7 linked regions of the Homo sapiens genome follow. The protein of the gene in region 3 purifies or fractionates together with the protein of the main gene of each other region. This does not show direct contact. Each region holds a gene or a part of one and is shown on either strand. Other genes may lie near its edges.

Region 1 (3,601 bases), on a different chromosome or scaffold from region 3:
CAAGCATCAGTCTCTCAAACAGTTGCCCCAGCCTGACAGTGCTAGTCTCTGTTTAATGGTAAAAGGAGACTTTGCCATAATTTTCAGATGAAGATGTTTCCCAAACACTGTTTACAGAATGAGATGTGACTCTACAGATACCTCATAGAAGACAATCCAAGATCATACTTCATTAACTTGACAGAGTACGTGTCTTAAAGGAAGCATCAAGAATTCAATATTTGCATTTAAAAATACTTTTTAAGGCCATTTTATATTAAGCCAGTGCTGGAAAACTGAATTTTTTTTATTATGTATAATAATCTCGACACCCAGCTTCTGGAATTGCTGCTTTCTTTTTACAGAAATTACTACCCAACAGATTTCAGGAAGTACTAGTAGTTATCCCAAAAGTGGAATAAGCATGTATTCCTAAGTGTTTCAGAAATGTTTTATTTCACACATAAGTCTTAATGTTATTGTTATGATTATACTTTATAAACAACCTTTTCCAGATGCTACAGGGTTTTGAATCTCAAAGTTAACATTTTTCATTATTTGTAATCTTAGAACCAAATCTTTATTTATTGTGGTCACTGTTATTAAATGATTTAGGAAATACTTTCAATATTATTCTGAATGGCTGAAGTTAGTCTTAAACTCAAATTACTATATGATGATTTAAAACAAAATAAAAGAGCGAGGATGGGGGTTGGAGTTTCAGGTTTATGTCTTCCCGACATCACTTTTATCATTCATGAAATTGTCTTAAAAAAGCAAGAGACTGCAAAATGTAAACAGTAATCTTCTGTCCCTTTAAGAACTGCCAACAATTTGTACAAAAAATGTGGTACGTTGGTTCCTGCCTCCACTCCAGGTCATCTGTGTGTTTAGCCTTTCAGGGTAAACTCTAGAGGGTTCAGTTTATAATTCCCACCTTTCACATATAGTTCAACAACATTAATCCAGAGAGAATTTTATGTTTTATGATATGGGTTATGTTTTATTATATATTTTATGTTTTATGATATGGGTTAGGGATTCTCCATGGACTCCAGAAACCCTAAAATACAATTTTGAGGTTTTCCAATAATACCATAGCAGAAATGTCCAAGGGGTTGGGGGAAGATATTACTTTGAGAAAACAGAAATGTAAAGGATTTTTGACCTTATATATGTGTGTGGTTTTGTTTTTGTTTTTGTTCTTGAGAGAGTCTCACTCTGTCACCCAGGCTGGAGTGCAGTGGCGTGACCTCTGCTCACTGTAACCTCTGCCTCCTGGGTTCAAGTGATTCTTCTGCCTCAGCCTCCCAACTAGCTGGGACTACAGGTACACCACACCCAGCTCATTTTTTTGTATTTTTAGTAGAGACAGGGTTTTGCCACATTGGCCTGTCTGGTCTTGAACTCCTGACCTCAGGTGATCCGCCTGCCTTGGCCTTCCAGAGTGCTGGGATTACAGCATGAGCCACCATGCCTGGCCTGTATGTGTGTGTTTTAAAGCACTAGATAGGGATGGACATTAAATCTGTGTTGCAGGGAAACTAAACAGAGGTTTCCAAACTGAAGGCAACCTAATTGTAAATGCCTGTGTTAAAGAGGCAGCTTGACTGTTCATGTTTCATTTTGCAACCATTGGTTTTGAGATTATCTTTTATGCACATTTGGAGTCCCTTTTCAACAGTGACAGTTTCTTACACGAAGAATGGATATGGTTATTGGGCTCCTCTAAGAATCAGAGTAGGGTAACAATGTACCAGGCAAATTGTAAGTTGAAATTCTAGATAAGCATGCAGATGACTTACAATATAAATGAAGAATAGGAAACATTTTATCTTCTTACCAAGTACCTTACTATAAGTAAACCTAAGATAAGAAAACCCAGATTTACCTATAAGATTGTTGGGAGTTAATGGTGTCAATAAAAGGATTGATGGTCCCTCTAATGAAACCCAGTAGATGTTTGTTGAATTGAACTGAAAATTTATGTGGCCAGACACAGTGGCTCATGCCTGTAATCTCAGCATTTGGGGAGGCAAAGGTGGAAGTATCCCTCGAGGCCAAGAGTTCATGACCAGCCTGGTCTTTTGTAGAGACCCTGTCTCTACAAAAATATAAAAATCAGCCAGGCGTCGTGCACACCTGTAGTATCAGCTACTTGTAAGGCTGTGGCAGAAGTGCTTTAGCCCAGGAGGTTGAGGCTGCAGTGAGCCATGTCCACACCATTGCACTGCAGCCTGAGTAACAAAATGAGACCCTATCTCAAAAACAAAAAGGAAAAGAAAATATACATGATGGGATTCCTATTGTGAAGTCATTTAAAATAATGACTTGAATTTCTCAGAAATTTCAGGAGCATATAAACTATTTAAATCAAAATATTCTTACATATAGAAACCAAGTAAGAATAAATGAGAGATATTTCAGTGGACATCTGGACATATTTATGGACTTTGAGTATCTAGCAAGTAGAAAGGAAAAAAATATTCATCATACTCTAATCATTTTTTTATATCTATTGAGCTTGTTTCTTGTAAACTTTTCTTTATCTTATAAAGGCATATCTCGCTTTTGTATCGACCTGTTCCTTAAAAAATGTATTTGATAAAACAGGCTAAAATTCATTTGAGTATTGAAAAGAATTCTTTTTTTTTTTTTAAGATGGTGTCTCACTGTCACCCAGGCTGGAGTGCAGTGGCACAGTTGGGCTCACTGCAGCCTCTGCCTCCCAGGCTCAAGTGGTCCTCCCATCTCAGCCTCCCAAGTAGCTGGTACCACAGGCATGCACCACCACACCCAGCTAATTTTTTGTATTTTTGGTAGACACAGTGTTTCACCATGTTGCCCAGGCTGGTCTTGAACTCCTGAGCTCAAGTGATCTGCCCACCTCGGCCTCCCAAAGTGCTGGGCTTATGGGCATGAACCACTGTGCCCAGCCAAAAAGAATCCTTTTGTAAAATACAGAAACACTGCAAACCTTTGTAAATCTTTTTTTTTTTTTTTTTTTTTTTTTTTTAATGAGATGGGGTCTCCCTATGTTGCCCAGGCTGGTCTTGAGCTCCTGGGCTCAAGAAATCCTTCCACCTCGGGCTCCCAAAGTGCTGAGATTACAGGGTGTGAGCTACCGCACCCAGCCATGAAAACTTCTGTAAATCTTAACTATCGTGTTCTGCTTAAAGTGAGGTACACATAAAGTTTCCTGTGCTTTGTTTTTGTAGGAAAAAGTACATAGTTTGTATCTTTACCTTACGGAGTCTATGAGATTTGAGAATTTGATTTCACTTTTTGTAACTTAACCCACAGAAAAGGACATTAACTTAGCAGATAGGACCAAGGACTGAATGACTTCTGACAAAAAGCGTTTGGTCTATCCTTCACTTGTTGAGCTACAACCATGCATTACACTTCTCAGCTGAGCTCTCAAAGAGCTCTATGCCCTGTGAAAAGCAGTGGCTGAGTTGGATGAACACATAGCATTATTAATTTTGCACTGGGAAAACAGATTATGACAGGACCACAGACCACAATATAAAAACTTGGCAGTTCTTTGGTGTGATATATTTTAATTAGTATTTGCAAATAATCAGAGTTACTTGTGTACATAAACGTGTGTTTCACAACT
Region 2 (4,276 bases), on a different chromosome or scaffold from region 3:
GATCCTGCAATCCCACTGCTAGATATATACCCAAAAGAAAGGAATTAAGTATATCGAAGACATATCTGCACCCCCATGTTTATTGCAGCACTATTCACAATAGCTGGGATTTGGAAGCAGCCTAAGGTTCCATCAGCTGATGAATGGAAAAAGAAAACAGTACATATACAAAATGGAGTACTATTCAGCCATAAATAAGAATGAGATCCTGTCATTTGCAACAACAGTGATGGAACCGGAGATCGTTTTGTTAAGTGGCATAAGCCAGGCACAGAAAGACAAACTTTGCATGTTCTTATTTGTGGGAGGTAGAAATTAAAACAGTTAAACTCGTGGAGATGGAGATTAGAATGATGGTTATCAGAGGCTGGGAAAAGTAGTGGAGTGAGTTGGGGGAGGAGGAGATGGTTAATGGATACAAAAAATATTGGCAAAGGGTGAGTAAGACCTAGTATTTGCTAGCACAATAGGATGACTACAGTAAAAAGTAGTTTAATTACACATTTTCAAATAACTAAAATAATTGGATTGTTTGTAACACAAAGGATAAATGCTTGAGGTGATGGATACCTCATTTACCTTGATATGATTATTATGCATTGTATGCTTGTATGAAAATATCTCATATACTCCATAAATATATATACATACTCTATCCACAAAAATTAAAAATAAAAAAATAGTAACAAAGTTTTTCTAAATTTAATAGTGTTTTAGAAATTAAAAGAGACCCAAGAATAAAAGGAAAGGTGAACTAAGAGAGATATAGGTTAAAAAGAAATATAAGAGAAATAAGCTATGTAAGAGATACAGGCCGGGCGCGGTGGCTCATACCTGTAATCCAACACTTTGGGAGGCTGAGGTGGGTGGATCACCTGAGGTCAGGAGTTCGAGACCAGCCTAGCCAACATGGTGAAACCCTGTCTCTACTAAAAGTAGAAGAATTAGCCAGGCATGGTGGTGGGCGCCTGTAATCCCAGCTATTTGGGAGGCTCAGGCAGGAGAATCACTTGAACCTGGGAAGCAGAGGTTACAGTGAGCCGAGATCACGCCACTGCACTCCAGCCTGGGCAACAAGAGTGAAACTCTGTCTCGAAAAAAAAAAAGAGATACATATAGAAGAAATAAGGGAAATAGGCCGGGTGTGGTGGATCATGCCTGTAATCCCAGCACTTTGGGAGGCCGAGGCGGGCGCATCACGAGGTCAGGAGATCGAGACCATCCTGGCTAACATGGTGAAACCCCATCTCTACTAAAAATACAAAAAATTAGCTGGGGGTGGTGGCGGGCGTCTGTAGTCCCAGATACTTGGGAGGCTGAGGCAGGAGAATCGCTTGAACCCGGGAGGCGGTGTCAGTGAGCCCAGATTGCACCCCTGTACTCCAGCCTCGGTTGACAGAGTGAGACTCCATCTCAAAAAAAAAAAAAAAAAAAAAAGTGAAATATAGGCCAAAAGCAGAACCAACAGTAGGGAAGAGCAGACGGTGGTTTACAGGGCCACGACCACCGATGGCTCTGGAAGTGCAGGTAGTGCAGGCAGCACCCTGAGACTGGAAGGGCAGGTGGAGGGAAAGGGGAAAGGTGAGTGATGGAGTGGAGCCCGCCTATTGGAGAGCTTCAAGGGCACCACTTGCCACTGTCTGGCAGGGCAAGTGACAGTGTAAACAGGGCAGTCAGGGGTTCACGTGGCTTTGCCTTTTGCTGCTGGCACCTGTTCAGGTGGGCTCTTCGGAGTTGATGAGGTGGTGATTGAGCAGCTAGGATGCAGTGTGGCAGGCTTGTCCTGTCACATACCAGAGAAGATGGTGGCGGGAGGTGGCGCTTGCAGAACTCTTAGGAGCACTGAGGAAGAAGGTGGAGGAACACCCAGCCTTCTGGCTTGAGTGCCTCCTGTGTGTCGTAGAAGGATCTAGATCCTGTGGGGGCACATGGAACAACAGGAAAAACTTGCAAGACCTGTGGGACCAGTACATGGTCATCTGGTATCACATGTGAAGCTGGGGCTGCGCATGGGCCATACTTCTCATCTTCTGGAGTAGAGTTAGACAAGGAAACCCAACTCAGGATCGCGTTAGTACTCTTGTCTGCTCTAATCGCGGGTTGAGCTGATGTCTTCATCCTTTGTTGGTTGCTGTTAAGGAATGAGGATGCGTTTATGGTGGAAAGAGTGTGGGGCTGAGAATCTGGAGGCCAGGGTCAAGTTCTGACTCTGCATTTATTATCTGTGTGACTTGCTGCAAGTGTAACCTGTCTGAGTGTCTGCGTCCTTATTTGTAATTTGGAGGCTATAATAGTGATGTCTGCCTCACAGAAGCCCTAGGTTGTCGTGGGGATCAGTGTGGGTATGTGAGAGTGTTTCATAAATTGCAAAGCTCTGCCGTAGCTGATTATACCTCTGGACTTCTAAGTGCTTTGAGGAAAGTGTACCTGGTTATTCCTTATACTTCTCACAGTGCCTCCAGAGTGTCAGTGATACTCAAGAAATGCTAGTTGAGTGTGAGTTTACTGCAGCACAGAGCAGTTTCCGGGTTCCATTTTCCAGTGGCCAGACCCTCTCCTTGTTCACACTGTTGGATGAGGGAGGTAGAGCTGGAGCATCGGACTGGCCTATGGAACAGATGCAGTGGCCACCAGGAGGTGGCGATGCCTGGAGCAGTGTTAGCCATGCAATGTGATGAGGATCACACACTCTCACGTGGTTTCCAGTCGCTGGGCACAGAGCTACCTTCAGGGGGGCCCAGCTTCATGTTCAAAAGCAGGAAGCAGACTAGGGGCTGTTTCCATTTCCTGTCCTCCCACTTCTCTTCCACTGCACAGCCCGTACATGCATGCCTGCATGCCACCCCTCACACAGTGTCCCCATCTCCTTAGTGCGGCCTCAATTCTGACTCCTGGTTGTTTCTCGTTTCCTTAACTCTCCGTTGCTACCCCTAGCCCCATCCCCTGCTTGTGGACCCTGGAGAGGCACTGTCTGCCTCTGCCTCTGTGGGCCCAGGTGCTTGTTGGGTGTTGAGCTTGCAGTGAGAACTGGTTTGCTGAGCCTTGGTTTTTTTTGCACCTGCTGCAGGTCATCTTCCACGATGTTGCTGTGCTGACGGATAAGCTCTTCCCCATCGTGGAGGCCATGCAGAAGCACTTCAGTGCTGGCTTGGGAACCTACTACAGTGACTCCATCTTCTTCCTCTCGGTCGCCATGCATCAGATCATGCCCAAAGGTAACCTGGGCTTCCAGGAGCAATAGCCCCTGGGTGTCTGACTTTTGCATCCATTTCCCTGGTTCCAACACTGCCCAGGCCCTGTATCAGGGAGAATAGCTCCACTGAACATGAAAGAGTGGACGAGGGAGCCAGACCAAGCCCTTTGTACCACCGAGCTTCCTACACCAAGAATCAAGGGCAGGGCCTTGGTTGCATAGCTCCCGGGGTCCATTTATGAGGACACAGGGGGTCTCTGGGCTCTGGTCTGGACTCTGCCCCTTGCACTCGCCCCCTTCTTTCCCCACTGCTCAACCCCCATACTTTGTTTGCTCATCTGAAAAATGGTGGGTTGGATTAGATGATCCTCCATCCAAATTTATGCTCTTGTTCTTTCTAGTTTGAATCTGTATTTATCTGATTTTAAAATAGCAAATCTAGATGTGAGAGGTGCAAATTACGACCATGTAGAACTTCTGAAGAAACTCTGATGCGCAATTAGAAGGATTTTCTGGGCGTCTGTCTCCAGGAAAGAGAGATGCATCATCCAGTGTGTGATAGGTCCAGCTTATGTGGAATTTCTGGCAGGTCTGGTCATGCTTGGACTGGAAGCCTTGGAGGGTCTAACTCCTAGAGTGTGTCTGGTTTCTAGGATCTCCCTACAGTGATCCTTAATGGGTTCTGGAGCCCTGGATATTGACCAGTGTATTAATCTGTTCTCACGCTGTTCATAAAGACATACCTGAGACTGGGTGATTTATAAAGGAAAGAGGTTTAATAGACAGTTCAGCATGGCTGGGGAGGCCTCAGGAAACTTACAGTCATGGAAGGGGAAGCAAATACGTCCTTCTTCACATGCCGACACCAAGGAGAAGTGCCAAGGAAAAGGGGGAAAAGCCCCTTATAAAACCGTTGGATCTCAGAGAACTCACTCACTAGCATGAGAACAGCATGAGGATAACTGCCCCCCATGATTAAATTACCCCCCACCAGGTCCCCCCCACCACATGTGGGGATTATGGGAACTACAATTCAAGATGAGATTTGGGTGGGGACACAGCCAAACCATATCAACCAGTTTC
Region 3 (4,276 bases):
GCAAAGGAGCATCCTTGACCCACCTGCCTCGCATGGTTGTTGAGTGTCGACTCAGATAAAGACTATCAAAGGGCTTTACAGTGTATGAAGTGCCACTTAAACATCTGATGGTAGTGTTGCAATGACCATCTATTTCCCAGTCCAGGAGACAGGGATGCCTTAGCCTCTAATTCCATAGCATCTGAACTTGGCTGTTCATTGCAACCCCTGGGGTGCTTGTTACATAGAGATTTCTTGGCCCTATCCCAGAGAGTCCAAGTCCAGTATGGCCTGAACATGTGTATTTTCAGAAAGCTCCAGAGGTTAAGAAATGACATTCTAGTTCATTGTGTGAACGTCCCTTTTTTGTGCTGAAGGAGGGACTGAAACCCAGTGATGGGCATGACGTGCCCAAGGTCAGGCAGTGAGAGGCAGACTTGATAGCACCAGATGTGGCTAACACTGCATCAGGTAAGGCTCCGAGCACTTGATTCGCTGATTTAGTCCTCACAGCAGTCCTAAGATTTGGTATTATTATCCTCATTTTATAGACAGGAAAACTGAAACACAGGGAGATGAATTTGCTTCCTGTACACAACTCAGGAGTGGCAGAGCCAGGATTCCAGTCCAGGCAGTTTGGCTTCAGGGTCTTCACAGAGCTTCCCAGGGCCCACCCTTCACCAGTGGGGCACGTGGCTGGCCCAGAGCAAGCCCCTCAGCCCCAGGCTGAGGTTTTGAGCACCTGCTTGGCACTAGGGTTTCTCTGCTACCGTGTGGCCTCTTCTTGTGGCCATGGTTAACGGAGGGGACAGGATTGCCCTGGGTGGACCCCAGGGAACCGTGGGGCCAGGGCCCTCTCCTCCCACCCACCAGCCTGCACACCCTCCCCAGGTCCTGTATCACCTCTTTGAGGAGTTTGCCAACTACGAACACGTGGGCATCGTGGACATCTTCCTCGGCTTCCTGAGCTTCTTCGTGGTGGCCCTGGGCGGGGTGCTTGTGGGCGTGGTCTACGGGGTCATCGCAGCCTTCACCTCCCGATTTACCTCCCACATCCGGGTCATCGAGCCGCTCTTCGTCTTCCTCTACAGCTACATGGCCTACTTGTCAGCCGAGCTCTTCCACCTGTCAGGCATCATGGCGTGAGTCTGCGTGCAGCAGGCAGTGGGCTTGGCGGGGTGGGGGCGGGGGCTGCCAGCTTGGATTCCCCAGGCTCGTAGGTTCACGGAGCTCCCAGGGCCCAGCCTTGAGCTCCAGGGATGAGACATGAACTCCAGGCTCCAGACCTGCTTGGTAGCCATTTAAATGGCCAAGGGCATCAGTGGCTTCCTAGAAGAGGAGCACTTCTGCAGCGCCCCCTGGGGTCCAGGAATCGGGAGAGGGCATTTCAGGCTATGAGCAGATGAAGCAAGAATGACCTGCATGAAGGCAAGCCCAGGGTATAGGAGAGCAGAGCCTTGGAAGCCACTAAGCTTCAGGTTGAGGAAAGCCACAGCCCTGCTACTTCATTGTCTCAAAGGGAGTCCCCTCAGCAGCCCCAGTAGGAGGCTCACCAGGCCTGAGTCCTGGCGGTCCTGAGGTCTCCACCGGGTCTGGAAATGGGGAGAATGGGATGTGGGGAGGCAGTGAGGGGTGAAGGTGTTCCAGTGCCGAGCAAGGCAGAACTGGGGTTCAGAGCCCCTGGCTCCCAGGAGCAGAGCCCGGGTGTGAGCACTGGGCTGGGAGGACTCCGAGCTCCAAGCAGCTGCTTGGAACAAAGCTCCCTGTGGAGACCCCTGTGTAATGGCAGATGCCACGCTTGAGGGGAATGAACCCAGGAGACCATGGGTCTGTGTCATTGACTCCTATTGGGTCAAGAGGCAGTGTGGCCTTGGGGCAAAGGTGCAGGCTTTGGAGTTGGACACTGTGGTTTGTGTGTCTTGGCTTTGCTGCCTGCAGGCAGCGTGACAGGGGAGAGGTGACTATTTCTCTTAGAGTCAGATCTCTCATTTTTTTATTTGAGACGGGGTCCCACTCTTGTCACCCAGGCTGGAATGCAGTGGCACGATCTCAGCTCATTGCAGCCTCTGAGTTCGAGATTCTCCCACTTCAACCTCTCAATTAGGTGGGATTACAGGTGCCCACCACCACACCTGGCTAATTTTTGTATTTTTAGAAGAGACTGCATTTCACTACATTGGCCAAGCTGGTCTCGAATACCTGGCCTCAAGTGATCCGCCTTTGTCGGCCTCCCAAAGTGCTGGGATTACAGGCGTGAGCCACCGTGCCCAGCCAAGATCACTCATTTTAAAAATGGAGGAATAGGGCCGGGCATGCGCTCGTCGCCTGTAATCCCAGCACTTTGGGAGGCCAAGGCGGGTGGATTACAAGGTCAGGAGTTCAAGACCAGCCTGGCCAAGATGGTGAAACCCCGTCTCTACTAAAAATACAAAAAAATTAGCCAGGCGTGGTGGCGGGCACCTGTATTCCCAGCCACTCGGGAGGCTGAGGCAGAGAATTGCTTGAACCCGGGAGGCGGAGGTTGCAGTGAGCCAAGATCGCGCCACTGCTCTCCAGCCTGGGTGACAGAGTGAGACTCGTCTCAAAAAAAAAAAAAAAAAAAAAAATGGAGGAATACACCGTGTCTATAGGGTTGATGTGAGGATGAGTGGCAAGAGGGTGTAAAGCACACAGCGGGCCCCTGGCCCATAGAGGAGCTTGGGACATGGGCACCTTGGTCGTGGCCCCATTGCCCCTGGCAGTGGAGGGGCTCGAGCAGGTGCAGCTCGACACGGAGCCCTGACCCCGCTCTTTCCTGCTCCAGGCTCATAGCCTCAGGAGTGGTGATGCGCCCCTATGTGGAGGCCAACATCTCCCACAAGTCCCACACCACCATCAAATACTTCCTGAAGATGTGGAGCAGCGTCAGCGAGACCCTCATCTTCATCTTCCTCGGCGTCTCCACGGTGGCCGGCTCCCACCACTGGAACTGGACCTTCGTCATCAGCACCCTGCTCTTCTGCCTCATCGCCCGCGTGCTGGGTGAGGGCCAGGGCTGGGGCGGGGTGGGGGTTGTGGTGTGGGGTGTGTGTGGGGGGTGGTGGGCTGTGGTGCTGTGTGTGTGGTGTGTGCAGTGCACTATGTGGAAGGGCCAGGCTATGTGGTGTGTGCATGTGGTGCAGTGTATAAGTATTGTGTGGAGGGGCTGGGCTGTGGTGTGTGTGTGTATGCGTATTGCGTGTGTGGTGTGTGTAGTGCATTGTAGGGGGGCTGGATGTGTGTATGGTGTGTGTGTAGTGTGTGGAGGGGTTGGGGGTGTGTGTGTGTAGTATGTTGTGTGGAGGGCTTTGTATATATGTGTGTGTTGTGTGGAGGGATTGGGCTGTGGTGCAGTGTGTGTATAGTTGTGTGGAGGGGCTGGGTGTATATGTGGAAGGGCTGGGTGTGTGTGTAGGGGTTGGGTGTGTGTAGAGGGGCTGGGTGTGTGTGTGTGTGTGTGGAGGGGCTGTGAGGGTGTGGGTGTGTGTGGAGGGGCTGTGAGGGTGTGGGTGTGTGTGTGTAGAGGGCCTGGGTGTGTGTGTGTGTGTGTGGAGGGGCTGGGGGTATATGTGTGATGCAGTTTGTGGTGGAGGTTTCCTGGTTGGCTCCTGCCTGCTCCCAGCACAGCTAGACAGGAGGGACTTCCCATTTCCATGATGGGCCCTTCAGCAGGGAGAAGCCTGTGTCACAGCAAGGCTGTGGTCTCTGGGGACAGAGTCAGGCTGTGTCAAAGTGAGGGGGCCCTGAGACTCTGAGCCTGTGGCTGTGGCTGTCCTGATGAGGGGCCTGAGGCCCACAGAACCCAGGTCTGTGACTCTGAGCTGAGTGCTCTCTGCACTGTCTCAAGACAGGTGACGTGAGCATGTGCCGAATCGCATGCAGAGCCACGTGCAGTCCTCCAAACCTATGCAGCAGGCCGGGGCACACGTGGGGACCAGGCCCCAGGTGCATGGGTTCCACTCACATGTGCCCCACATGCCTCACCCCAGTGCCTCAGTCGCCTCCTCCCTGGATCTCTCACTTCCTCTCTGAGGGTTAGGTCCATGTCCCCAAGCCTGGCAGGACCTCACATTTATTTGGTGCACTTTTGAAATCCCCTTTATTCCTGAGCCTCATCCTCCAGGGATTCTGGTTCTGTGGGTGGAGGTTGGGCCCAGCCCTCTGCATTTTTTATGCTTTATTATGGAAAATTTCAAGTACTTAGAAAAGTAGAGAGAATAGGATCATGACCCCCCACACACCCATCACATTTAACAAGTATTGACCTGTGACCCATCTT
Region 4 (4,276 bases), on a different chromosome or scaffold from region 3:
CTTTGGGAGGCCGAAGTGGGTGGATCACGAGATCAGGAGTTCGAGACAAGCCTGGCCAACATGGTGAAACCCTGTCTCCACTAAAAATACAAAAATTAGCGCAGTAGTGGGCACCTGTAATCCCAGCTACTCAGGAGGCTGAGGCAGGAGAATCGCTTAAACCCGGGAGACAGAGGTTGCAGTGAGCCGAGATCGTACCACTGCACTCCAGCCTGGGCGACAGAGTGAGACTCCATCTCAAAAAAAAAAAAAAAACAAAAAAAAACGAGAGAGTTGATGGTGCCCTTCACTACTTCCCAAGCATCCTAGAGTCCCACGGGCTGCCCCGCCCACGGGCAGTGGCTGCGGAGTGTCTGCTCTATCAGGCATGGTGATTTCCTGCCAGCCTGTGCCTTTGACATTCCCACCAGAGGCAGAACCTTCTGCAGGTGGCCCTGGCCAGGCTCCTCTCTCCTCCCAGCTCCTCATTAGCCTCCTTTGCCAGGCTAGGAAACCGAGGTATGCGAGGTTAAGGAACTTTCCTTGGGCCGTGCAGCTGAGAGTGCGCTTTGCAGGGATTTGCATCCAGGCCGCGGGACTCACACAGGCCACACCTGCCACCCCCACTGCCTCTGGCTCGTGGGAGGTGTGGGATGTGGCGGGTGGCCGGGGCAGTGCTGGGCAGGCAGGTGTTGGTATTCACAACGTTGCTTTCTTGACCGATTATTTTCCTGGGAGACTTCCTCAGTCAAAGGGTTGATATGCTTGCGAGCTCTCGATGCACGCTATCAGATTCTCCAAAAACGTACAGCCAGCTTCGCCTGCACCTGCAGCTTCTGTGATTTGTGCTCTTAATTGACGTGGCGCTTTTTTTAGGTTGAGTCGTTTTTCATTGCCAACAATCTTCTCCTGCATTGAAATAATAGCTTGTAAAGAAGCCTCACGCTTCCTTTTTCTCTGTTGACTCTTCTAGGACGCGCTCCAGGAGATATATAATCAGAAGGGCATGTTTCCAGGGGAGCAGTTTAAGCCTGCCCGGAGGCCGTGGACCCTCCTGAACTTCCTGTCCTGGGCCACCATTCTCCTGTCTCCCCTCTTCAGTTTTGTCTTGGGCGTCTTTGCCAGCGGATCACCTCTCCTGATCCTGACTTTCTTGGGGTTTGTGGGAGCAGGTAATGGACACTGTCGCTAACAGCTCACACTCTGACGGGCCTCACAGTATCAGCCACAGGGTCCGGGACCTGGTGACTCATCACAGTGGCTGTGGGAGGCAGGGGCCTGGCTGTTATGGACCCTGGAGCCAGGATCCCCCCACGGCCTGCGGGCCTCAGAGCCTGGATTCTTGCACTGAGCTGAGGGTCGCCTCCCCAGAGAGCCGAACGGCCGCCACCTGGCGCCATCCCCACTGCAGCCCCACTGGCTGGCGCCCTTGAGGATGCCGACGAGAGGGTCCCCGAGAGGGTCCCCAGCCCCCCTGTCTGCTTTTGGGCTCTTAGGGGTCAGGCTGGGCTGGCCATTCGGGAGGTTTAAGCAGGACATCATCATTCAGCTCCTCCCCATTGACCCCCAGTGACTTCCCCACTGTGTGCCCACCCCAGGCACAATGCCAGGCCCACCACGACTCATCAGCTAGCCTGGGGCCGAACAGACACCCAGCCTGTCCCTGTGGTGAGCTCCGGCGCCCACCCACACCCCGTAATTGAGGGGTCTCTGTCCGTGGAGACACAGTCCGTGTGCATCGCCCCGTGAGCCGACTCCCCAGGCCCAGCAGCTGGGCCAGCTCCTCCCCTGCTCCTGCCGCCCCTGCCAGGGGCCTTGGTGGGAGGGGTCCTGAGAGGCAGTGACTGCCACCAGCCTCTCCCATTGGACTACGAGATGACTTGAGGCCACCCACAGAGGACAGGATGTGACCTGCTTACATCCGAGGGTCCTGCTCGTCCACCTCTGTCACCTGTTGGGTTTGCAAGGCCGAGCTGTTAGAATGCCCCGAAGCCCTTCTGCTCCCACCAGCCAAAGACCCAGAGGGGCAGGCAGGGCAAGGTCCACGTGTCCACCTGCCTCGGACCCAGCCGGTCAGAAGACGTGCCCCTCACCCCTGCCTGAGCAGACCACGGTCTGAGAGGGCTGTCTCCCCGCGGGCCACACCTACTCACTGACAGCAGAGGCCACTGGGTGCGGGGCAGAGGGACAGGGTCTGGGGCAGAGGAAGGAAGCCCCAGTAACACGTTTTACAGCAAAAAGGCAAAGTCATCCGTCTCACCTCTTCTCTCTCTCTCCTGTCTTGAAAGCTTCCTTTGGAGTTCGCAGACTGATAGGAGTAACTGAGATAGAAAAAGGCTCCAGCTACGGAAACCAAGAGTTTAAGAAAAAGGAATAATTAATGGCTGTGACTGAACACACGCGGCCCTGACGGTGGTATCCAGTTAACTCAAAACCAACACACAGAGTGCAGGAAAAGACAATTAGAAACTATTTTTCTTATTAACTGGTGACTAATATTAACAAAACTTGAGCCAAGAGTAAAGAATTCAGAAGGCCTGTCAGGTGAAGTCTTCAGCCTCCCACAGCGCAGGGTCCCAGCATCTCCACGCGCGCCCGTGGGAGGTGGGTCCGGCCGGAGAGGCCTCCCGCGGACGCCGTCTCTCCAGAACTCCGCTTCCAAGAGGGAGCCTTTGGCTGCTTTCTCTCCTTAAACTTAGATCAAATTTTTTGGTTTTTAATCAGTTATCTTGGGAACTTAACCTGGCCCCTCACCTCTTCTGCACCCCCCGCCCCCGAAACTGTCTCGTAATGAATTTCTGCTGTCCTCCTGGGAGTGGACGGCCGGGTCCCGTCCCCCGGGAGCATCGCTCGGCTCAGCACCTTGGCTCCCAGTGGGGGCCCCGTGGAGGGCGCCCGTAGTGATAAGCACACCGGCACGAACGTCAGGTCCATTCCTCGAAGTCGGAGCCCTCACTCTGCCCTGTCCTGGGGCTGGCTGAGGGCGAACGCCCCACCTCACTTTCTAGAGCCCTGTCTGTCCTAGCTCCTATCTGACCTTGTGTGTAAATACGTACATCTGTTTTTAAAGTGGATGGGCCCCTGAGAACTCAGTGAAATGCAGAGTTCTCCATGCACCTAAAGCTCCTTTGTCGCTCTCATGGCTGTCAGATCCTGGTCCCTCCACACTGGGTGCTGGGGAGGGAGGACCCTCGGGGCTACCGCGCGCCCCCCCATCCCACAGATCAGGAGCCAAGGAGGGAGAACAGGGCAGCCTGTGGGACTCTAGGATGCTTCAGAAGAAGCGACGGCACCGTCAACCCTCTGTTTTTTAAAGGTGGTTGGAGACTGTTAACACTGAGCTCATTGACTTCTAGAGATTTTATTTTTACTGGTTGATCTCTTGGTGGTTTTCAACTTCCTGCTGGAAACTAGAGGTGGGGCACCCCCCACCCCCCAGCCTCGCACTGTGTCCTTGGGGAAGGCCCGCCCCCATCCTGGCCGGTGTCACTGTGGCCCGGCCACCCCTGAGCGCCCAGCTCCCTACCTCCTGGACGTCTCTGAGAGTCCAGGCAGAGCAGAGGGCAGCGCTCGGCCGGTCATGCTGGCTCCCTTGGCCTTGCAGCGAGCCCCTGGCCCACGCCGAGCGAGGGATGCTTCTCCCTACAGCATGTCCACTCCCCCGGCATGGCCAGGTGGGGCCCCTGGGGCAATGGCAGTGGTAGAACGCTCAACTTGGTTGCGGTACCATCAGCCCACCTGCATTTGGCTTTCGACTTGCTTGTTCTAAGTCACAGCGCCCTCATCTTTTTAGCAAGGTAAAAAAACCAAAATGGGTGTTATCTCTGATATCTTGAAACCAGCGTTCTGAATAGAGGTAGGTTGAGTTTTCTAGGGGAAAACAAATGGAGAAAAGAGGCATGAAGAAAAGTAAACCGAGAACATAATTAGGCATCGGGCCTAAGTGTCCTGGGGAGATTGGAGGGGACGGCAGCGTTCTGCATGATGGAGGCGCTGCCGGGCCCCGGGTCTGTGGGGGCCGTGCTCTCAGGGCGTGTGCGGGACGCCACCTGTGCACACCTGCTCAGAGCACGGCTCCTCGCAGGGGTGAAGGGGCAGACCAACGAAACCAGATGAGACCAACGACACCATGCGAGACACGCTTGCAGACACTGTTGTTTTGGAAATGTGCTTCCCTCCATCTGAAATCTCATCCCTCCACCCGCCCACTCGGGCAGCTGTGCCGTGGGCAGGGCATGCGCTCCCCTGGCTGAGCACCCCAGAGATTCTCCTGCACCTTCCTCATGCCGCACGCTGC
Region 5 (4,102 bases), on a different chromosome or scaffold from region 3:
CCTCCCGGACGGGGCGGCTGGCCGGGCGGGGGGCCGACCCCCCCACCTCCCTCCCGGATGGGGTGGCTGGCCGGGCTGAGGGGCTCCTCACTTCTCAGTAGGGGCGGCCGGGCAGAGGTGCCCCTCACCTCCCGGACGGGGCGGCTGGCCGGGCGGGGGGGCTGACCCCCCCCACCTCCCTCCCGGACGGGGCGGCTGGCCGGGCGGGGGGCTGACCCCCCCATCTCCCTCCCGGACGGGGTGGCTGGCCGGGCTGAGGGGCTCCTCACTTCCCAGTAGGGGCGACCGGGCAGAGACGCTCCTCACCTCCCAGACGGGGTCTCGGCCGGGCAGAGGCGCTCCTCACATCCCAGATGGGGCGGCGGGGCAGAGGCGCTCCCCACATCTCAGACGATGGGCGGCCGGGCAGAGACGCTCCTCACTTCCTAGATGTGATGGCGGCTGGGAAGAGGCGCTCCTCACTTCCTAGATGGGATGGCGGCCGGGCGGAGACGCTCCTCACTTTCCAGACTGGGCAGCCAGGCAGAGGGGCTCCTCACATCCCAGACGATGGGCGGCCAGGCAGAGACACTCCTCACTTCCCAGACGGGGTGGCGGCCGGGCAGAGGCTGCAATCTCGGCACTTTGGGAGGCCAAGGCAGGCGGCTGCTCCTTGCCCTCGGGCCCCGCGGGGCCCGTCCGCTCCTCCAGCCGCTGCCTCCCGGGCGGCGCTCGCCGGCCTATACGCCACACTTCTTATCGCCCTCCTTGTCTGCAATTTATTTAAGAAACTGGGTGATTTAACCCGTGAATTTTTTTACAGTTTGGATTCCAATGATTGCATAATCAAAAGGTAGTTTAACATGTTTCTTGATTCTCTGTGGTTTCTTTAAAGTAGTTATTGGTCTAAGATGCTTAAACTTTTAATACATTGACTTTAGACAGCTTCAACTCCATTTGCAATAGCTACTATGTGACCTCTGAATTTTTGGTAGGCAAGAGGTAAAGCAATTGCAGCCCAGAACATCATGTGGAGCCAGGAAATGCTGCTAGGAGAGAGGGTGGCTAAGCTGACAGAGTTGAGGGCAGTTTTCCTGGATCAGTTTAGAGGCCATGTGCAAAACAGAAACCTTGCAGCAGGAGGGAATGACTTATCAAAGGGAAGTGGTATCTGGAAGTGTCTAGGAATGGACAGAAGTCAGTACTTAACACAGGTTGACTGGGAAAATGCTGGGAAGTAAATAGAGAAAGGCAAGTATACCCTGGGTTCCTTCAAAGCAGTTCAGGAAAATATTCTCTAAATGATGGTGGTTACATGCAACGTAAATGAGTTGATCAGGAATGCTCCAGGTCCACCAGCATGTTAAACTTTTAATGGTTGAGACGTTATATAATATTTTCTGGTAATTCAAAGTCTTAGCAAAACTTTGTGGTAAGGATATTTGTCCCATATTTCAGATAACTCTAAGAATGCTAGGAAAGGGGAATATGTCAACAAGAAATGTTACATGTATGGCTGGATGCTATTTTCTATTTTTTCCCTTTCCTTCAGTCAAGCATGTGGCCTGGTTTATGCTTCCTTACCTCACAGATATTTCAGAAAGCGGAAGTATCAGACAGTAATCCCTATTTATGTTCTCAAAAGCCAAGCCCATAGGAGATTTATTAATAAAAGATTTGTAAATAAGTAAAAAAGGAAAAGAGAGCTTTTAATAGGTGGCTGAAAGGGTTAGAAAAAAAAATGAAGGAAGAAAGGAATTTCTCCAATGGTCTACATACCTTTCCCGCGCAAAATGGAGGAACAGAAAAGATCCTGGGGGTCTAAGACTTGGGCCAGAAGTTCTGGAAGTGCCTTGAAGAGTCTATAATATTTTAAAAAGGGATACATGCATGGTGTGGCTAGGGACTTAGGGGCTAGGCATGGGGTTCCCAACCTTAGGACATTTCCTAAGCGTGTTACGGAAGCAGTCTGGGGATCTGAAAGAACTGTAGGAGTGGGGGACAGTAAATATCTTACCAGGGACTTTCTCTGTGCATGCAACATCTGAAACCCCTCTCCCCAACCAAACCTCAATGCCTTGGCCCTAAATAATCCTCCAGAGACTTGGGGGTGTGGTTGGGGTTAGAGAAAGTCTCAAGCATGAGAAGTGAGAAGCTTAGAAGCAGCAATTAGGTTGACACATGTTCTCACTTATAACCGGGAGCTAAATATTGAATAACACATGAACACAAAGAAGGGAGCAATAGATACCAGAGCCTACATGAGGGTAGAGGGTGAGTGGAGGGTGAGATTTGAAAAACTACCTTTTGGGTACTATGCTTATTACCTAGGTGGTGAAATAAGCTGTACACCAAACCCTGCAACACACAGTTTACCCATGAAACAAATCTGCACTTGTACCCTCAAAACCTAAAATAAAAGTTGGAAAGAAAAAAAAGAAAGAACAAAATTAAGTTGACTTATTTTTAATAGGCTTTTATTACACATCAGAGTTTGTGGGATGAAATCTGTCTCCATTACCCAATGCAAAAATCACTGGGAAAATTAGTATAACAAATGACCGCAAACACTTACATAGTACTTACTATGTATTAGGCGTTGTTCTCAGCTTCTACGTGTATTAACACATTTGATCTTCACACTACTTACTTTAGAGAAAGATGTCATTATTCCTGATTTAAAGAGGAGGAAATTGAAGCAGGCTAACGTTAAAGAACATGCTTAGGATTACACTGCAGCTGACAAGTGGCAGGGTCAGCATTCAGAGTCCATGTGGGTAGTCACCACTCCAAGCTTTCTCTCCAAAACCGCTGACTCAGGCACACTTTTTAGGTTAAAGTAAATCAGGACTTATGAAGTGAAATGTCAGTTTTCTAATGGAGGAACCAGATCCAAAATATAAAACCCTCTTTAAGATAATTTTTAAGATGAGCAGGTGCCAGCTGACTCCTCCTTCTTGATAATGCTTAGGTGCTTTGGAAACTCTTCCTGGATGAGAAAGAGATTCTTGTCCCTCTTCATCTGCTGCAAAGGACAAAGCCCCAGAAGAATAATATGCCAAAGTCGGCCTTAACATCTATCATCCCTATAACCTCATCTCCCTGGTGCTCTGACCTTCACTGGGATGGTATAAAGCAGAGGCTCTAGAGTATCCCTGGAAATGAGGAGCAGCGTACACTAACCAGTTTGGTTTAGAGTAATTCTCTCCTATTTGTAATTTTTATGAAAAACAATTTAAATATGGCCTTGGACTCATGATATTTTTTATGTCACAATAAAGTGGAAATTTAAAGTTACAAATCCCCAAAAAGGTCCTCCATCAACTCCTCATAGGATGTATCCATTTTTAGCTCTGATTATTGCAGTTAACTTTCCAAAGTGCTGGGATTACAGGTGTGAGCCACCACGCCAGCATATTTACTGTGAAAGTTTAAAATCTGATTTGAAAGCTGCTTATTATAAGCAATATAATTTTTTCTTTAACGGCCCCAGAATGTTTAATGTTACATAATATGAATATATATTTTCAAATGTAAAAAAAAGCCTTTTTATATATAAACATGTATAAAAGAATAAATATAAATAAGAAATTAATTGGGGTGGCAAAGTACATTTAAAATTTTGTGATGTTTTTGTCAAAAACGATTTGAACAAATTTATAGGAAAAAAACAAACAACCCCATCAAAAAGTGGGCGAAGGATATGAACAGCCACTTCTCAAAAGAAAACATTTATGCAACCAACAAACATATGAAAAAAAGCTCATCATCACTGTCATTAGAGAAATGCAAATCAAAACCACAATGAGATACCATTTCACGCCAGTTAGAATGGTGATCATTAAAAAGCCATCATTCTGAGCAAACTATCGCAAGGACAGAAAACCAGACACCACATGTTCTCACTCATAGGTGGGAATTGAACAATGAGAACACCTGGACACAGGGCAGGGAACACCACACACCCGGGCCTGTCGTGGGGTCGGGGGACGGGGGAGTGATAGCATTAGGAGAAATACCTAATGTAAATGACGAGTTAAAGGATGCAGCAAACCAACACGGCACATGTATACATATGTAACAAACCTGCATGTTGTGCACCTGTACCCTAGAACTTAAAGTA
Region 6 (4,276 bases), on a different chromosome or scaffold from region 3:
ATCATGAAGCAAAGGTAGTTATATAATTCACGCTTAAGAGATAAACAGTTAAAAAGAAAACCCTGCTTATTTAAAAGTAATTTTTTTCCTGATGGTCTAGAGCATAATTAATGGGACAGATAAACTTCTTCCCTAAGACCTAAGGGGCTTAGTGAAGGTGAGATAATAAAAATGTATTCGTTTATTATTTATTTATTTAATCAGAAGCTCCTTTTTCTTGGGAGAGGAAATCAGTAGAGGCTACACAGATATATAACAGTAATTTAATTTCTTTTGAGTGGTGCTGTTAGAGTTTGGGGTATTTTTTAAGAAAATCATTAAAGATTAGTATTATTTGGTTCAAACTGTTAAAGCAGAAACATTTTCTTTATTAAGAATAACTAATGTCCAAGAACACATTTTGATGCATATTGTGGCCAGCTAAGGGCTCCAAGAGAAGCAGCATCGAGGGGAAAAGCAGACTGGGGAGCAGGGAAGGAGTGGGAGACTCAGGGCTGGCCATGGGAATAGGCTTAGAGGAAGAGAGAGAAAGAAGTAGAGGGTGAAGGTGCTAAAATATTATTCAGTTTGCTTTGCATATGTCCCATAGGTGAAAATGTGAAATTATTTTTTCTCTGAGTAGAAATCAGTTTGTTTGGGGACAGTATGGCATAGTCAGTAAGAGTCTGGGTTCTAGAATCAGACCTACAGGAACCTAATATCAATTATGCGATCTACTTACTTCATGTGGTTTTTGGAGGATTGCATATAAAGTTCCAGGCATGTAGTACTCAATAATTATTAGCTGCCTCTGTTGTGGTTGCCGATGATGATGATGATCAAATAGGGGACCTTTCTTGGCTCACAGAGCCTTCCTATGCAAGGTATCAGGACAGCTAGCACTAAATTCAGAGTTGATAGCAACTTAAATAGCTGTGTGATCCTTGGCATCTCCCAGCACCAACTTTATTATCTGTAAAATGAGCATAATGATGTCTTTCTTACCAGCTTGTTGGGAAAAATCTCATGAGAAAATATATGTGAAAGTGACATAAATTTTATATAAAGTACTATGCAAGTATAAAGCATTTTAATGTATTTTCTCTTACATTTTCATAAGTCATTTAATTCTTCCTCAAGCCATATCCGTCTTAAAAAATTTTTTTTCTCACCTCTTTTTAAGTCCCAAACTTCACTGTCTACCAGCGTGGTTCATATATGTGAGAATAATCCTAGAAAGGCACCTCTGTAGCAGAAAAGGCAAGCACACGTCACAATTTATTTCATAAGATAGGAAGTGCCCCTAACTTCCAGACAGTCTTCTGCATGCTCAAAAGTTCCCTCCAGATGTCTAGAAAAATCTCTTCCGGGCTGATCGCGATGTCTCACGCTTGTAATCCCAGCACTTTGGGAGGCCAAGGCAGGTGGATCACCTGAAGGTCAGGAGTTTGAGACCAGCGTGGCCAACGTGGGGAAACCTCATCTCTACTTAAAATATAAAAAATTAGCCCGGCGTGATGGTGGGCCCCTGTAATCCCAGCTACTCGGGAGGCTGAGGCAGGAGAATCACTTGAACCCAGGAGGCGGTGGTTGCAGTGAACCGAGATCGCGCCATTGCACTCCAGCCTGGGCAACAAGAGGGAAACTTCGTCTCAAAAAAAAAGAAAAAGAAAAAGAAAAATCTTCTCCAACCTCTTCATCCACATTTGTCAGTCACTCACTTTACTTCAAGACCAGTTGAGTTGCCACTTCCTAATGGAAGCCTATTGTAACACCTAGTCTGAATTACTATAATTTCCTGCTCTGGGCTCATGTTGCCCTTTGAAGATATATATTATAGTACTTTTCGTATTTTATTGTAGTGTTTTCGTTTTTACATCTGTCTTCTTTAGCCAGCAAACACTATCATCTTGGTTTTTCTGTGTGTGACTGACAGATAGCATCATAAATACTCATATATTTGGTTGGTTTCTTTTTTTATTTCGTGAATCAGTCAATCATTTAATGTAAACTTGCCCCCTTTATTTTACATCTGAGCAGATATAGGCTAAGGAGCCTAACTGAGTTGCCCAGTATTAGACAAGTAAATCACAGGCAGAGTCAGGACTAGAATACAGTACTCAGGTTTTAGATTTGATGTTCTTTTAGGATGGTTGATGAATGGTCTGTTCCTAAAATATCAACATGCTGAAGGGCTTGGCACTATCATTATGGGTGAGCACAAAGATATTATTGCTATCTGAAACTTAAGGAATGTAAAATATCTTTTAAAGTATTACTTATAATGAAATGAATATGAAATTTTCCTATTAGCAGTGCCCTTTTAAGGAATAAATGCTATTATTTTTCTCTGTTGATGCTTCTGTAAACCTCCTCTTAGGGCAATTGGTCAGTTTAATTACTTTTTGTTACAGATGACATTTACTGTGTAGGTCGCTATTTCTAAATACTTTAAGTTATAATGTGGAATCCTCATGTATATTAATTTTTTTCTTGCTCTCTCCAGGTTTCATTGCTTCAGACATGACATCAAGACACTCCAGTACCCAGCTGTGGTTAATTACACATTATCATGAAATGGGATCGTTGTACGACTATCTTCAGCTTACTACTCTGGATACAGTTAGCTGCCTTCGAATAGTGCTGTCCATAGCTAGTGGTCTTGCACATTTGCACATAGAGATATTTGGGACCCAAGGGAAACCAGCCATTGCCCATCGAGATTTAAAGAGCAAAAATATTCTGGTTAAGAAGAATGGACAGTGTTGCATAGCAGATTTGGGTAAATTTCTAAAAATATTTTTTTCCTCACCAGTTTTATTTTTGTTTCAATGGTTAGGTGAGTTGCATCTCTCCCCCACAACATGTTATGCAAAATTTCAAACATGCAGAAAAGTTGAACATTTACAATGAACACCTTTATACCCACCACATAGATTCTCACATTAACATTTTACTATCCTTAAGCATTATTATGTATTTATTCATCTATTCATCTCCCCATCCATCAGTCCATATCAACCTTTGATAGAGTTGAAAGTAAATTGCAGACAAAGGAATTCTTTCTTCTGATGATTTCAGCATGTACACTAGTATATCATTGACAAGAATGCATTATTTGCTTTTTCTTTTTTTCAGGTAAAATTTATATACTGTGAGATATACAAATCTTAAGAGTTTTGACAAATGTTGTAAAACCCAAATCCCTGTCGAGATACAGAGTTTCCCATTACTCTTGACAGTTACCTCAGGCTCATTCAGTCAGTCCCTGCCACACCCCACCTCAGAAGTAACCAGTACTGTTGCATTTTGGTTTCACTAACCTTCACATAAAGTAGGTGCACAATAAATACTCTATAGAATTAGTTTATCTTAAAAGTGGTCTCTAAAATCATTCTGTAACCAAGGCAAAAGAATCAAGTTAAGAAATAGGAAAATAATCCCCGAACTGATTCACTCTTTTCCCTGTTAGGATAGCTCATTCTTATGGTGTTAGAGTAGTACTCAGTGTAGCTTTAGTTGCATTATAAATAAGAGTATTTTCATTTATAGTGGCATTTTATATAAAACCATGTTCTTCCTGGATTCCTAGAATATTGGCTAAATAATTGTGCTAATGAGAATTCAGGGCCCTCTACTTGATTAAACATGGTTTATATGATATTTATATTATTGCAATTATTGTTAGCCTGATAAAGGTTTAGACAAAAATAGCTTTAGTTATGTAAATAACAAAGTTTATTTTTGTTTGTTTTTAAACATAAGGGATTTGACATGTTAGGAAAATTTATTTCCTTTGAATCCCTTTAAAGTCTTTGCTTTTACATTGAGAAATTACAATGTTTCCCAAGTAGGAGACGAAAGATTTTAGGATAAGCATTGAAAGAGCATGGCCCTAAAGTTTTTTGCAGGCATTTTTAGTTGTGGTGTAGAGGACTTTTATGGCTTATTCCATGGCTCTTAGAGCCAGGGCGATTTGGGTTTAAATTCTGGCTTTCTCAATTACCCTGTATTTTTGTGCAAGTCTATTTATCTATTTACCTGGCCCAAGTGCTGACACTGCTTTCACTCAGTGAGACAGGGACAGTGAGGGCGAAGGCGGATGGGGTTGGGAGTTAGCCAAGAGGAACTCCAGGGCTTGACGCTGTGCCCTGTACTTCTGCGTTGTTAGAAACTTGCATAACAGTGTGATCGTGGCCGGGCGCGGTGGCTCACGCTTGTAATCCCAGCACTTTGGGAGGCCGAGGCGGAAGGATCACTTGAGGTCAGGAGTTCAAGATGAGCCTGGCGAACGTGA
Region 7 (4,276 bases), 710 kb from region 3:
CCTGGGCAGTGTAGCAAGACCTTACCTCTACAAAAAATAAAAAATTAACCGGGTGCTGTAACATGTACCTGTGGTCCCAGCTACTCAGGAGCCTGAGGCAGAAGATCACTTGAGCCCAGGAGATCAAGGCTGCAGTGAGCCATGATCGTGCCACTGCAATCCAGCCTGGGCAACAGAGCAAGACTCTGTCTCAAATAATAATAATAATCCTTCCTTCAAAGAAAAATTACTAGCCGGGCGCGGTGGCTCATGCCTGTAATCCCAGCACTTTGGGAGGCTGAGGCGAGTGGCTCACCTGAGGTCTGGAGTTCAAGACCAGCCTGACCAACATGGTAAAACCCCGTGTCTACTAAAAACACAAAAAATTAGCCGGGTGTGGTGGTGCATGCCTGTAATTCCAGCTACTGGGGAGGCTGAGGCAGGAGAAGTGCTTGAACCTGGGAGGCGGAGGTTGCAGTGAGCAATTGCACTCCAGCCTGGCAACAGAGCGAGACTCTGTCTCAAAAAAAAAAAAAAAAATACAGTTGGCCCTCGATATATTTAGGTTTCACATCCTCAGACTCAAGCAACCGTGGAGTGAAAATATTTAAAAAAAACTAAAAAATAATACAACAATAAAAAATAATACAAATGTAAAAACCAATACAGTGTAACAGTATTTTATATAACACATTGTATTAGTTCAGTACATTACTAATACAATGTAAGTGCTATGTAAAATAGTAATGTAGTATAAAATAGTAATGTAACATTATATAAGTAATATAGAGATGATTTAGAATATAGGAGAGAATGGGCACAAGTTATATGCAAATACTATGCCATTTTATATCAGTGACTTAGAGGGAGGGAGTCCTGGAACCAATCCCCCACGGATACCAAGGGACGAATGTACCGTTATAGCAAAGTGGAGTGAGACATATGGAGCTAAGGAAAGAAATGTAATGGATGCCAGGGTATAATGGATCATTTCATATTCAACAGAGGAAAGTCCAAATTCCTTAGCCTAGGTTCAATTTTCGTATCTAGTAATTTCCAAACTCTGACATACACATTCTATGTTATGGCAAAGCTAGGTTATTTGCTCTTTAACTGAGTTGCCTTTCTGTTCATATGACCTCTCCTTTGCTTTAAGGCACAACTCATGTCTTACCTCTTCTGCAGAGTCTTCCTTTTCTCCACACCTTTCTATACCATTAATTCAGCCATTTCCTATATAGTACTCTTCCTTCTTATTTATTTTATTGTGCACTTATTCCCCACGTCCACCCCAGTTAGCTGTATTCACAGCAACTAGCAGACTACCCCAACTATGGTAGACTCTTAGCAAGTGATTGAAATGCTGACAAGACTTGCTTTAGCAGATAGTCCACTATAGTAGACTCTTAGCAAGTGATTGAAATGCTTGCCAGGTTATGATTCCAATAACCCTTCAAACCTGGAAGGGAATTGCCCTCAAATTTCCATAGGGTCATGCCCCATATGAGCACCCCTTTAATAAGACAGGTTTCCATTGTCTTTCTTCTGCCTGATCATGAGTCAGAAAAACTCAAATATAGGCCAGACGTGGTGGTTCACACCTGTAATCCCAGCACTTTGGGAGGCCGAGGCAGGCGGATCAGTTGAGGTCAGGAATTCGAGACCAGCCTGGCCAATGTGGTGAAACTCTGTCTCTACTAAAAATACAAAAATTAGGGCCGGGCACAGTACAAGCTCACGCCTGTAATCCCAGCACTTTGGGAGGCCAAAGTGGGTGGATCACCTGAGGTCAGGAGTTCGAGACCAGCCTGACCAACATGGTGAAACCCCATCTCTACTAAATATAAAGAATTAGCCAGGCATGGTGGTACATCCTGTAATCCCAGGTACCTGGGAGGCTGAGGCAGGAGAATTGCTTGAACCCAGGAGGCGGAAGTTGCAGTGAGCCGAGATTGCACCATTGCACTCCAGCCTAGCAACAAGAGTGAAACTCTACCTCAGAAAAAAAAAATAGCCGGGCGTGGTGGTGCACGACTGTAATCCCATCTACTGGGGAGGATGAGGCAGGAGAATCACTCAAACCCAGGGGATGGAGGTTGCAGGGAGTTGAGATTGTGCCACTGCACTCCAGCCTGGATGACAGAGCAAGACTCTGTCTCAAAAAAAACAAGTAATAAATAAAAATAAATAAAAAGAAAGAAGGGACGGAGGCTGGGCGCGGTGGATCATGCCTGTAATCCCAGCATTTTGGGAGGCCGAGGCAGGCGGATCAGGAAGGAAGGGAGGGAGGGAGGGATAGAGAGAGAAGGGAGGGAGGGAGGGAGGCCAGGCACAGTGACTCATGCCTGTAATCCCAGCACTTTGGGAGGCCAAGGCAGTGGATCACGATGTCAGGAGTTCAAGACCAGCCTGGCCAACATGGTGAAACCCCGTCTCTACTAAAAATAAAAAATTATCCGGGCGTGGTGGCATGGGCCTGTAATCCCAGCTACTCAGGAGGCTGAGGCAGGTGAATTGCTTGAATCCGGGAGGTGGAGGTTGCAGTGAGACGAGATTGTGCCACTGCACTCCAGCCTGGGTGACAGAGCAAGACTCTGTCTCAAAAAAAAAAGAAAGAGAAAGGAAGGAAAGAGAGAGGAGAAAGAAGGAAGGGAGGGAGGGAAAAAAGGAAGGAAGGGGAGGGAGGAAGGAAAGGAAAGGGAAGGGAGAGAGAGAGAAGGAAGGAAAGAGAGGGAGGGAGGAAGGAAGGAAGGAAAGAAGGAAGGAAAGAAAAGGAAGAAAAAAGAAAGGGAGGGAGAGAAGGAGGGAGGGAGGGAGAAAGACCCAAATATAGGGGATTTTGCCAATGTTAAATTCTTCCACTGCTGTTAGGAAAACAAGCTGCAGTTCAGCCCACTGAGCTGATTTGTGTTTACCTTCTTTGATCAGAGCAGTAAATAGGTTGTAGTCCATTCACTTTGGAACTGCTATCCACAGACCATCAGCTTTTTGTCAGTCAGTTGGGAGTTACCATAGGGCATTGTCCAGTGATGACAGAATCCAGCAACTCCTCACACAGTTCCAGAGTCAATCCCAGGGGAAAAGAGGCTCCTTACTTGTAGCTCCTCCTTGCATTCCTCAGATAGCATGATCTTGTATAAACATTTAAATTCTGTAGTCCAAAGTCCCAGTGGTTGTCATCGGGAGGCACTCAACAGGCTTTTGTCACAAGGCCTAGCAGTCTCCACATAGGGCTATCACACCAAGAATTTGTCTATATCAGCACTCCAGCCTTCTGCTGTACTGTTTGGACTTGGGCGCTCTTACTGGTTCTCATGTAGCATGTCCCATTAATGTTGCTTGAAGAGTGAGTTTATGTGCCTTCTGTTTTACAATATTGGGTAGGCAGCAATAGATTATTTTCTGTTTATGGAGAAAGCATGCTTTGTAGAGCCTTAAAAACACACGTGTTAATAGCTAAAACTTTAGGTACGTGAGGGAAACAAATCTTCTAACATGTTGCTTAATGTTAGTTAATTGTTTTTTGTCTTCCTTAGGCTGACATTTTGGATGTCAATCAGATATTTAAAGATTTGGCCATGATGATCCATGACCAGGGTGATCTGATTGGTATGTATTATTGATACCTTTAACCTCAAGGTGAGTTGATAGTATTTGGCATGCATCTGTAATCCCAGCTACTCAGAAGGCTGAGGCTGAAGCACCATCTAGGAGTTTGAAGCCAACCTGGGCAACATAATGAGAATTTGTCTCTTAAAAAAGAAAGAAAGAAAGAAAAAGGAGTTAGGCTAGGCGTGGTGGCTCAGGCCTGTAATCCCAGCACTTTGGGAAGCCCAAGCGGGCAGATCATGAGGTCAGGAGATGGAGACCATCCTGGCTCACACGGTGAAACCCGTCTCTACTAAAAATACAAAAAATTAGCTACGCCTGGTGGCATGCACCTGTAGTCCCAGCTACTCGGGAGGCTGAGGCAGGAGAATCCCTTGAACCCAGGAGGTGGAGGTTGCAGTGAGCCGAGATTGCGCCACTGTATTCCAGCCTGGGTGACAGAATGAGACTTCGTCTCAATTAAAAAAAAAAAAAAAATGGAGTTAGTCATATCAGCTATAGAGTTAAAGTATGTTTAGGAATGCCGTTTTAAAAATTACCAAATTTATTTTTCGTAGCAATTTTTTTATGTTATCAAATGTAGAAGTTAAATGAGGCCTCATGAATACTCAGTCCCATTGACTTCTTTGTACATCTTTGTTTAGAGAAATAGCTCTCAGCTTCCCAGCTTTTATCTCAACAAACTTGC

The links.
Region 1: the proteins of SLC9A1 (region 3) and SLC30A4 purify together in Homo sapiens (co-immunoprecipitation; one large-scale study listed by IntAct). This does not show direct contact.
Region 2: the proteins of SLC9A1 (region 3) and XXYLT1 purify together in Homo sapiens (co-immunoprecipitation; one large-scale study listed by IntAct). This does not show direct contact.
Region 4: the proteins of SLC9A1 (region 3) and AGPAT3 purify together in Homo sapiens (co-immunoprecipitation; one large-scale study listed by IntAct). This does not show direct contact.
Region 5: the proteins of SLC9A1 (region 3) and HTR1E purify together in Homo sapiens (co-immunoprecipitation; one large-scale study listed by IntAct). This does not show direct contact.
Region 6: the proteins of SLC9A1 (region 3) and ACVR1 purify together in Homo sapiens (co-immunoprecipitation; one large-scale study listed by IntAct). This does not show direct contact.
Region 7: the proteins of SLC9A1 (region 3) and STX12 purify together in Homo sapiens (co-immunoprecipitation; one large-scale study listed by IntAct). This does not show direct contact.

What each region holds. Positions count from the first base shown.
Region 1 is NC_000015.10:45,481,452-45,485,052, reverse strand, and holds part of SLC30A4 (probable proton-coupled zinc antiporter SLC30A4), read left to right. Parts: 3' UTR 1-3,601. UniProt on the Homo sapiens protein: Probable proton-coupled zinc ion antiporter mediating zinc import from cytoplasm potentially into the endocytic compartment. Controls zinc deposition in milk.
Region 2 is NC_000003.12:195,225,648-195,229,923, reverse strand, and holds part of XXYLT1 (xyloside xylosyltransferase 1), read left to right. Parts: intron 1-3,067; coding exon 3,068-3,215; intron 3,216-4,276. UniProt on the Homo sapiens protein: Alpha-1,3-xylosyltransferase, which elongates the O-linked xylose-glucose disaccharide attached to EGF-like repeats in the extracellular domain of target proteins by catalyzing the addition of the second xylose.
Region 3 is NC_000001.11:27,106,372-27,110,647, reverse strand, and holds part of SLC9A1 (sodium/hydrogen exchanger 1), read left to right. Parts: intron 1-870; coding exon 871-1,121; intron 1,122-2,782; coding exon 2,783-3,000; intron 3,001-4,276. UniProt on the Homo sapiens protein: Electroneutral Na(+) /H(+) antiporter that extrudes Na(+) in exchange for external protons driven by the inward sodium ion chemical gradient, protecting cells from acidification that occurs from metabolism.
Region 4 is NC_000021.9:43,980,037-43,984,312, forward strand, and holds part of AGPAT3 (1-acyl-sn-glycerol-3-phosphate acyltransferase gamma), read left to right. Parts: intron 1-952; coding exon 953-1,151; intron 1,152-2,267; coding exon 2,268-2,356; 3' UTR 2,357-4,276. UniProt on the Homo sapiens protein: Converts 1-acyl-sn-glycerol-3-phosphate (lysophosphatidic acid or LPA) into 1,2-diacyl-sn-glycerol-3-phosphate (phosphatidic acid or PA) by incorporating an acyl moiety at the sn-2 position of the glycerol backbone.
Region 5 is NC_000006.12:87,010,154-87,014,255, forward strand, and holds part of HTR1E (5-hydroxytryptamine receptor 1E), read left to right. Parts: intron 1-4,102. UniProt on the Homo sapiens protein: G-protein coupled receptor for 5-hydroxytryptamine (serotonin). Also functions as a receptor for various alkaloids and psychoactive substances.
Region 6 is NC_000002.12:157,764,406-157,768,681, reverse strand, and holds part of ACVR1 (activin receptor type-1 precursor), read left to right. Parts: intron 1-2,485; coding exon 2,486-2,761; intron 2,762-4,276. UniProt on the Homo sapiens protein: Bone morphogenetic protein (BMP) type I receptor that is involved in a wide variety of biological processes, including bone, heart, cartilage, nervous, and reproductive system development and regulation.
Region 7 is NC_000001.11:27,814,336-27,818,611, forward strand, and holds part of STX12 (syntaxin-12), read left to right. Parts: intron 1-3,515; coding exon 3,516-3,588; intron 3,589-4,276. UniProt on the Homo sapiens protein: SNARE promoting fusion of transport vesicles with target membranes. Together with SNARE STX6, promotes movement of vesicles from endosomes to the cell membrane, and may therefore function in the endocytic recycling pathway.